3 linked regions of the Homo sapiens genome follow. The protein of the gene in region 3 purifies or fractionates together with the protein of the main gene of each other region. This does not show direct contact. Each region holds a gene or a part of one and is shown on either strand. Other genes may lie near its edges.

What was found. The genes of interacting proteins can lie anywhere in the genome.
Region 1: the proteins of AHCTF1 (region 3) and TUBGCP3 purify together in Homo sapiens (affinity purification with western blotting, with the first as the bait; one study listed by BioGRID). This does not show direct contact.
Region 2: the proteins of AHCTF1 (region 3) and NUP107 purify together in Homo sapiens (affinity purification with western blotting, with the first as the bait; one study listed by BioGRID). This does not show direct contact.

What each region holds. Positions count from the first base shown.
Region 1 is NC_000013.11:112,578,154-112,581,653, reverse strand, and holds part of TUBGCP3 (gamma-tubulin complex component 3), read left to right. Parts: intron 1-3,500. UniProt on the Homo sapiens protein: Component of the gamma-tubulin ring complex (gTuRC) which mediates microtubule nucleation.
Region 2 is NC_000012.12:68,738,978-68,742,477, reverse strand, and holds part of NUP107 (nuclear pore complex protein Nup107), read right to left. Parts: intron 666-3,500; coding exon 498-665; intron 124-497; coding exon 16-123; 3' UTR 1-15. UniProt on the Homo sapiens protein: Plays a role in the nuclear pore complex (NPC) assembly and/or maintenance. Required for the assembly of peripheral proteins into the NPC. May anchor NUP62 to the NPC. Involved in nephrogenesis.
Region 3 is NC_000001.11:246,844,949-246,848,448, forward strand, and holds part of AHCTF1 (protein ELYS), read right to left. Parts: intron 1-3,500. UniProt on the Homo sapiens protein: Required for the assembly of a functional nuclear pore complex (NPC) on the surface of chromosomes as nuclei form at the end of mitosis. May initiate NPC assembly by binding to chromatin and recruiting the Nup107-160 subcomplex of the NPC.

The sequences.
Region 1 (3,500 bases), on a different chromosome or scaffold from region 3:
GGCAACATGGTAAGACCCTGTCTGTACAGAAAATATAAAAATTAGCTGGATGTGGTGACACATACCTGTAGTCCCAGCTACTTGGGAGGCTGAGGTGGGGGAATCACTTGAGCCCAGGAGGCAGAGGTTGCAGGGAGCCGAGATCTTACCACTGCACTCCAGCCTGGGCGACAGAGTGAGACCTTGTCTGGGAAAAAAAAAATTCTTAAATAGTGACACAACTTTTAAAGGAAACTTTTCAATGATACTTTTAATATTTGTAAAATTAATATATACGCAGTGTAAAAATTCAGAAAGTGGAAAAATATAAGGAGAAAAAAACTACCCCGACCCTGTGACCCCACAAAACATTTTAGATTTCATTTTGTTCCTTTCCCCACTATGCAGGCATTCACTGGATCCTTGCTGACACAGTGCGCTTGTGTCTGCTTTAGCTAGAATAGGGACAGAAAGATGGGGGGGTGTGAGTCCTTAGAGGATGTGGAGAAGAGAGAGCTGGGTGCCGAGCTGGAGGTGAGCTTGGTGTGTTCCAGGAATAGCAGGAGTGCAATGTGGGGAGCAAGGGGCCGGCTCCCTGGGCTGGGGCCAGGAGGTTGGGTTCTGTTGTGAGTGTGATGGGTGTGTGAGCAGAGTGATGATAATATTTATATTTTAAGAGGATCACTTTGACTGCTGGGTGGATAATTCACTCTAAGGGGGCAAAGGTGGAAGCAAGTGAGCAGCTCCTCAGGAGACTTCCTGTAATGGGATGGTAGCTGTGGAGTGATCATATTTGGGATATGCTTTTAGAAATAGAATCAACAGGATTTGCTGATCTAAATAATTACTTAATAGTCTGAAAATGTCTTTATTTCTCTTACGCTTCTATTCCTGAACTCTTGGATCATCAGTCAGATATAGATATTCTGGTCTGAAGTGTTTTTCCTCTGCCCACTTTGAAGGTATTCTTTCATTATTGATGAGAAGTCTGATGTTAATCCATTTCTTACTCCTTTGAAGATGTGTCTGGTAGCTTTTAGAATTTTAAAAAATCCTGCATGTTCTGAAATTTTGCAATAATGTGTCTAGGTGTGGAACTTAAAAATTTACCTGGATTAACACTTGATGATCCTTCAATCTGAGGACTTTTCCTTTTTTTAAAATTTATTATTTTTTTCAAAGCTAGTGACAGACTTAGAATTTTTTTTTTGAGAAGGATCTTGCTGTATTGTCCAGGCTGGTCGCAAACTCCTGGGCTCAAGTGATCCACCTCAGCCCCTGAAAGTGTTGCAATTACAGGTGTGAGCCACCACGCAGGGCTGACTTTTTTTTAATGATAGAAAAATTTTACTATTTTTTCTTCATAATTTCTAACTGTTCTTTTGTTGTGTTTGATTTTCTAGCTTGCATTTAAATTGTCCTTTAGTATCTCCATTCTGCTATTTAGCCCATTTAAAAAAATTCTCAGTGTTTAGGTTCACAGTGATTTCCTCTGTGCTACCATTTTGCCTTTGTGCTGGCCGCCACCATCCTGTGTCTGTGTATGTCTCCGCTTCTAGAATTTCACGTAAATGCAGTCATACAGTGTTCAGTCAAAAGTTTTGAGACTTGTTTCTTTCACTTAGTATAACGCGTTTGAGATGCATTTACAGTGCCATATCAATAGTTCACCTTTTCATTGCAGAGTAGTGTTCCATTGTATGATGAACCAGTTTATCCATTTTACCACTGAGGGACATTTGGAGTGCTTCCGTTTTTGGCAGTTATGGATAATGCTGCTATGAACATTCATGGACAGGTTTTTTATGTGAACTTAAGTTAGTTTTCTAGAATAAACACCTGCAAGTGGGGTTGTTGGGCCTCAGGGCAGGTGCATGCTCATTGTTTTCAGAAGTTGCCAGACTCTTTTCCAGTATGGCTGTGGCTGCTTTGCCGCTGCACCAGCAGTGTGGGAGAGCTCCAGGGATGCCATGGCTCCACCCGCACACAGCAGTGTGGGAGAGCTCCAGGGATGCCATGGCTCCACCCCCACTCAGCAGTGTGGGAGAGCTCCAGGGATGCCATGGCTCCACCCGCACACAGCAGTGTGGGAGAGCTCCAGGGATGCCGTGGCCCCCCGGCACTCAGCAGTGTGGGAGAGCTCCAGGGATGCCGTGGCCCCCTGACACTCAGCAGTGTGCGAGAGCTCCGGGGATGCCGTGGCCCCGCGGGCACTCAGCAGTGTGGGAGAGCTGCAGGGATGCCGTGGCCCCGCTGGCACTCAGCAGTGTGCGAGAGCCCCAGGGATGCCGTGGCCCCGCGGGCATTCAGCAGTGTGGGAGAGCTCCAGGGATGCCGTGGCCCCACTGTCACTCAGCAGTGTGGGAGAGCTCCAGGGATGCCGTGGCCCCACCTGCACTCAGCAGTGTTAGTGGTTTTTAATCTTAGCTATTCTAGCAAGTGTGTTGTGATATCTCAGTGTGGTTTTAATTTTAATTTTCCTAGTGATGTTGAACATCTTTGTGTGTGTGTGTGTGTTTGCCATTCATATGTCTTCTTGGTGAATTATCTGTTCAAAACTTTTGCTTATGTCTTTGTGTTTTGCACATATTTTTTCTCAGTATTTTCATTCTCTTAACAGTGTCTTTTGCAGAGCAAAAGTTTTTAATCTTGATGAAGGCCAATGTATGAATTTCTAAAAAAATGGGTCATCATTTTGGTGTCATGTAGGAACTCTGCCAAACTCAAAGTTGCAAAGATTTCTTTGTTTTGTTTTATTTCTAAGAGGGGCTTATGTTTTACTCTTCTATTTAATTTTTGCTGGGGTGATCAGACCCAACACCAGGTCGTGGGGGTGACGAAGTCTGGTGGAGTCGAAGGAATGAGAAAAGACAGTTTGAGAGCGAAAGTGGGTCCAGGGGGCCATCGCTAAGTATGGAGGCTGTGAAGGCCCTGAGCTCTGGAAGCCCAGACTATTTATTGGTGATCAAACAAAGAAACAGGTGGTGAGAATGTGGGGGTCGAAAGGTCGCGTTGCATTAAGCACATGATTTACAGGTGTGATGATTTAGCATCTGCTCTGCTACTTGAGATAATGGAGAGCAGGTTCTTTTTTTTTTTTTTTTTTTTTTTTTTTTGAGACGGAGTCTCACTCTTTCGCCCAAGCTGGACTGCAGTGGCGCTATCCCGGCTCACTGCAAGCTCCGCCTCTTGGGTTCATGCCATTCTCCTGCCTCAGCCTCCCGAGTAGCTGGGATTACAGGCGCCCACCACCACGCCCGGCTAATTTTTTGTATTTTTAGTAGAGACGGGGTTTCACCGTGTTAGCCAGGATGGTCTCGATCTCCTGACCTCGTGATCCGCCCGCCTCGGCCTCCCAAAGTGCTGGGATTACAGGCGTGAGCCACCGCGCCCGGCCGAGAGCAGGTTCTTTTAACTCAAGATACAATCGATCCTGGGAGAGCAAGGAGCAAGGAGCCAGCAAGTCTAGACACATTCCAGAGCCACGAGTCCTGGATTCCATCCAAGCCACGAGGGGTTTT
Region 2 (3,500 bases), on a different chromosome or scaffold from region 3:
ATTACAAAGATTAAACTATAACTGAATTTCATACCCTAATGGGTCAAGTCCCTGGTCTAGGAGCATTAGAGAGGACTCTCTGAGCTTCTGCAGCAACTTCCTTAGCTCTTCCTTAGAAAATACCTGATTTTTAAAAAGAGAAATAAGAATGAGAACAAAGACAAGTAGACAAGTATGAACTTAGTTACCTAATCGATCTGATTAGCTTCATATAAGAAGAAATGCCTCTTTAAGATTTATGTAGCCAGAGCCTAGTAAATTAGAGTGGTTCAGGAATTTCAAGGTGAATTCTCAGAGTCAGTCTATATATTTCTAACTGCTTACAAATATACACACATTTTGGGAAAAAAGTACAAACATTAAAACATTAAAACTGGACTATTACTTTAAGAAAATCCAAGAGCAATTACAAATGTAAACACATCTTCACAAAATTAATATTACTACAGAGCATATCAAATCATTAAAATTTAAAACTACAAGGCTCTAGAACTTACCAGGTACAGTTTGTGGCGCTCAGAGGATACCATATCTGCTAACTGTAGGCATTCCTGATACTGACCAGTACTGTGCAATATCGTATGAAGCAGAAAACACAACATTGGCAGACAAAGCTTTCTCAGTAAGACCATTTGATGTGTTCTTTCATGGTCTTCTTTGGCATCCTACAAACAGACATCAATAAATCATTTTAACAATTTAAGCTAAAGATCCTTACAAAAAGAAAAGCCAGGTACTGAATCAAACCCAGAATGTAATTGGTAGACAAGATTTAACAGCAAAAAAGTATGAAGATGAACAACGTAGACTACAGAGAGGTATGACAGTGAAAATAAAATGCTTCTGCATTTGTATTTCTAATAAACTTACTATGTCCTGAATAAAAACATGCATAAAAAGAATGAGTTGGAAACTGAATATCATTAGAGCAAAAATCAGAACAGAAAACAATCACCACTCCTTTGGATGTTTATACATATAAATAAAGATAGCTCTAAGGAGGCCTGAGAGGACACAACAGACTGACAGCAATGACTGTTGCTGGGAAAAAGACGATGTGGGGAGGGGCACACAGGGAGGGTCAACTTCATTGCAGACTACTTTGCTTATACACATGGAAAATGGAATTTATAATTTCTTTATATAATTTTTAAAAACAGAAAAACAGAACCTATAGATTTGAATAATACAATTAATGAGTCAGAACAGATATATAAGGAAAACAAGCAGAAAAAACAATTGGCATTCCTTTATACATACATGGATCTTTCTTAAAATCGATGTGAACAGTAAAAGTACAGAAAAAAGAGTAAACCTCTTATGCCCACTACATTTACTTACAAAAAATTTGAAAATTAAAATAATTAGAAAGTAACCAACCACATAATTTCTTTTTTTTTTCTTTTCTTTTTTAACCTTTTTCTTCTTTTCTGAGACAGCATCTCACTCTGTCGCCCAGTCTGGAATGCAGTGGTACAATCATGGCTCTCTGAAGCCTTGATCTCCGGGCTCAAGCAATCCTCCTACCTCAGCCTCCCAAGTAGCTAAGAACCACAGGCATGTGCCACCATGCCCGGCTAATTTTTCTATTTAAAAAAAAAAATAATTTTATTATTTGTAGAGATGAGGTCTCCCTATGTTGCCCAAGCTAGTATCGAACTCTTGGGCTCAAGTGATCCTCCTGCCTCAGCCTCCCAAAGTGCTGGGATTACAGAAATTACACACTACAATTTCTGAAATAATCTTAAAAATAGGAAGGAAATCAATAGCACTAATAGTGTAGAAAAAAAAAACAGGACAAGCTAAAATAATAACTGCTCCTTTGAAAAGCCTAATGGAATACCTAAAAGTATCTTCATGTGAGAGGCTATATTAAATTGCTAAAACATTTTTCAAATGGACATGTAAGTGGAGGGGTTAATCAACAACAAAGTATAATCTGGTAATTATACCAAGGAGTAATTGTACTAATTTGGGCTAATCTAGGTCAGGTTTCCAAACATAGGAAAAATTACTATCAATATTTTGGTCTTGTTTGAAGCATAAATACATAAAAGCAAATATTAAAGTGCTTCTTTACAAGGGAAGCACCTTTATTTCTTTTCTCAAATAGATACTTGCTACCTTCAGAGGTGGATTTAAAATGCTTCAAGGTTTTACTTGTAATTCATATTAGTGATCCCAACCTAGAACCCAGTAAGAATAAGAGAACTGCTTCTTTCTGGACCTTTCCATTTGTGCTCCAATGTAGTCTTTCTGTCTATGTTAAAGAGGCCGGGTGCCCCTGGCTTCTGACTCCTTGTTGCCCGAAAAGCAGCAGGTTACTTTCTTATCTCACAGGATGGACCCAGACTTGCTTTTACTAAATCCTTTTGCTGCCATAATATCAGAGTGTGCTGCAGACAATCTCTTCTGCTAATTATAATGAATTCCGATACTAGCGGGCGGGCTGCCAGCAACTATCCAGGGTAATGGCTGACAGACCCAGCAAATTGCTACAAGGAAAAGCAAATAAACAGCTCTGCTACAACTGAAGACATTTTTCTCATCTGAATGAACAAAAGCTTTGAAATAGCCGGTAAATATGTAAAACAGACGGATTATTTCCACTAGGGATATTTCCACTTTTTTTTTTTTTTTTGAGACGGAGTCTCGCTCTGTCGCCCAGGCTGGAGTGCAGTGGCGCGATCTCAGCTCACTGCAAGCTCCGCCTGCCGGGTTCACGCGATTCTCCTGCCTCAGCCTCCCGAGTAGCTGGGACTACAGGTGCCCGCCACCACACCCGGCTAATTTTTTGTATTTTTAGTAGAGATGGGGTTTTACTGTGTTAGCCAGGATGGTCTCGATCTCCTGACCTCGTGATCTGCCCACCTCAGCCTCCCAAAGTGCTGGGATTACAGGCGTGAGCCACCGCGCCCCCCCATGTAGTGCCTTACATGTGAGAAAAACTCATTACCTAATATGTGTTGATAGCAAGAGTTGATTGGAACTGATATTACAGCTATTCCTAATCTGAAGACAGTACATTCACCTCAGTAATGCAGTATCATTCATTTACTAAGTACCACTGAAAGCCTCCCATGTGCTCAGCATTATTTTAAGTGCCAGAGTCAAAGAAATAAAGAAAACAAGGTTACTCCCTTCATGAAGGTTATATTCTAATGAGGGTAGACATACAAAAAGCAAATAAATTAATATGTTTTATATCAGATTGTGCTAAGTGCTATGAAGAAAACTAATGTAGGATATGGAGATTAAAAGGGACAGGTGTGTGTGTGTGTATACACATGCATACATGCTATTTTAAATAGGGTGGTTGGGTTGGGGAGAGGTTCTTGAAAGAGATGACATTTGAGCAGCTGCTGAAAGAAGTACAAAGTCATCCATGCACCTATCTTGGCGAAGGAGCATTCTAGGCAGAGGGGAACCAATGAAGAGGCCCAGAATGCCAGGATATAGTGATGGGAGAGCAGTAGGACACAAGATTAGGGGGTTAGTTT
Region 3 (3,500 bases):
AAACCTGTCTGTGCATCAGTTTCTATAAAATAGGGTTAATAGTAGCATCTATCTCAAAGTTGTTCTGAGGATGAAAGAAGCAGAACAATGTGTGGCAGGGTAGGTGGTAAGTGCTCTACAGATGTTTGCATTTGTTATTTCAAGAATATCATTTACAAACCCTTGAAATAAAATCACAGTTCATGTTACTTCAGCTACTGGGATAGTCAAGAGTTCTATCAAATTCTGCTTTTCGAGCATGATTCTTTAAAAAAATGTTTTTTGTGGGTACACAGTAGGTGTATATATAAAAATGTTTTTTGTGGGTACACAGTAGGTGTATATATAAAAATGTTTTCTGTGGGTACACAGTAGGTGTATATATAAAAATGTTTTTTGTGGGTACACAGTAGGTGTATATATAAGCATATGATTCTTAAAAAAAAGAAAAATAGAGTTGATATCAGATATCAGAAATATATAATCTCTGCTCCCAGCTTGTAAATGGCAGAAATGGCAATGGCTAGGTCTACTGGTGGTCTCTCTCTTGGCTTCAAGAAACAGATGAACAAAAGTATTTCTACGAAAATTATACATTCTATAACTCTCTTCTAGGCTACCTGAAAAAACGATTTATTTCACTTTTCGTAATCTTCACCTAAGCTTTCCTACTCCATTTCAAATATATAAGGAAATACAAAAATATACTATCACATGCAAAAATAGCCTCCACCATTTTTTCCATGTGCTTCTATTATAGCACAGATGAGACTTTCTTGAGTGTATGTCAATTCTTTACCCATCTCTTGTTTTGAGGATTAAGGAGTTCAAAAGGCCTAGGTTCAAACCCAACTGTGTCCTAGCAAATGACTCTGGAAATTCAAAGAGAGCTCTGATTTGCAGCATTTGCTGATTTCTAAGGTATAAATGTGCCTCCTGTGGCCAATGCAAACCATGGCTGGGTTACAAGTTCTTGGATATTTAACAATTGGCTCTTACCAGCCAGTAGTAGCAGTAGTAGCTCTAGAACAACACATCTTACTTATTCCCTGGGTGATGTGAGTGCACAGTCTCAATGAACTTCAGTTTCCTCAATGAGGACAGAAGGAAGTAAAAGTACCTACACTTTACTGGGTTGAAGTGGGAATCAAACGATATATGAATGTCATGTATCTAGTATGGCCTTAGGTATATAGCAGGCCCTTCTTAATATCTGCTGTATGAAATGTGAAGTTTCATATTCATTTAGTAAAACACAAAATTCTAAGATAATTTCTTCGCTATGTTTCAATAAAATAAAGGACCACCTCTAGCCTTCCAATCATATAGTATACCTATACCCAGTCTTCTCGGCACCTGCATCCCTATGTAAAAACGAAGTTTAGAATATAAATAGGCACAAGGGACAGAAAGTATGGTAACAGTATAAAGGGCAGAGGAAGACAGGAAGCTATGTCCTAGAGTGGTCATTGCTTTGTTAAAGGAGTGAATACTCATAAGAACCCCTGTAAGGTATGCACTACCACATTCATTCTAGGAGGAGGAAACAAGGCTCATAAAGGTTAAATGATTTTCTGCCCAGCTAGTAAGTGGCAGAAATGAGAGATCTCAATCCCAAGTTTCTTATCCCTTCCAATCCCATCATCTCATTCTAGCAGGTGCCTATTTTTAATATTAAAAAATCTGAAAGCAATTCAAATACCCAACAGAAGAGGGTTTAAACAATCTGTGGCACATTTGTGAGATGAAATGCCAATATGAAAAAAAAAGAAATATTACGTTTAAGATTTTGAAATATATATACATATACATATATATATTTTTTGGGGGGATGGGGGTGGGGAGGTGACAGGATCTCAATCTGTCACCTGGGCTGGAGCACAGTGGTGTGATGGCTCACTGCAACCTCAACCTCCCGGGCTCAAGCCATCCTCACACCTCAGCCTCCCAAGTAGCTGGGACTACAGGTGCAGCCACCACATGCCCAAATCATTAAAAATTTTTCTTTTGTAGAGATGGGGTCCCACTAAGTTGCCCAGGCTGGTTGGATTTTGAAGAATATTTAAGATTAACTGAAGGCTGGGCACAGTGGCTCATGCCTATAATCCCAGCACTTTGGGAGGCCAAGGCGGGTGGATTATCTGAGGTCAGGCGTTTGAGACTAGCTTGGCCAACATGGCGAAACCCTGTCTCTACTAAAAATACAAAAAAATGACCCAGGCGTGGTGGCAAGCACCTGTAATCCCAGCTACTGGGGAGGCTGAGGCAGGAGAATTGTTTGAACTCAGGAGGCGGAGGTTGCAGTGAGCCAAGATCACACCATTGCACTCCAGCCTGGGTAACAACAGCCAAACTCCATCTCAAAAAAAAAAAACAAACAAAAAAAAAACTGAAAATGCTCATGACATAAGTAGGGGGACAAAAGCAGAATATATGCACGTACATAAACTGCAGGTTTTTAAATACCAACCATACATATGTATCTGGAACGATATACAGGAAAACGTGAATGGTGATTCTTTCGATGGCTGGATTATATACTTCTATTTTAGAGTTTTCAGTAAGTAGGCATGTATTGTTTTTGTTTTGAGACGTGGTCTTGCTCTGTTGCCCAGGCTGGAGTGCAGGGGCACACGATCATGGCTCACTGCAGCCTCAAACTCTCAGGCTCAAGTGATCCTCCTGCCTCAGCCTCCCAAGTAGCTGGGACCACAAGCCTATGCCACCAGGTCTGGCTAATTTTTGTACTTTTTGTAGAGATGGGGTTTTTTTGGCCATGTTGTTGCAGGTATTTTTAGTTTAACAGAAAAAAGTTAAAATTAGTAGGTACAGAAATGAAAAATAGGTAAAGATGACAAAAATCAGAATTACTGAGATGTTTGCTAAGCTCTAACAAAATAACTCTCACTTTTGGTGGTTACTATATTCCTCCAGGTCCTGAGGAGTGTATAAGTTATGTGAATGACTTCCTGCCACTCCCTGCCAATAAAATGTTTTTCATTTTAACTTTTTAATAAAACCTTAATAAAATGAACTTAAAAAAAGTTGGCTAAAATATCACACATTCTGTCATTTCATTCTCCTCCATGCAAAACATAGGTCTAACCACACTTTTCTAACACTGTGAAGAAATTAAGTTATACTACCAAAATCGAAGATCCAATTAAAAATTTTCTGAGTGACGAGGGGAGAGGAGGATCCCCTATAGCTACAAATCATTTTTAGGACAAATGATCAATTGTTATGGGGAGAGTCATTCTCCTGGGCTCAAACTGTATCAGTACAACAAGTCATCTACTTTATTTATTATTATTATTATTTGGCCCCCCGGGCTGGAATACAGTGGCACAATCTTGGATCACTGCAAGCTCTGCCTCCCAGGTTCACACCATTCTCCTGCCTCAGTCTCCCGAGTAGCTGGGACTACAGGCGCCCGCCACCACGCCCGGATAATTTCTTTGTATTTTTTTTAGTAGTGTTAGCCAGGATGGTCTCGATCTCCTGATCTCGTGATCCACCCG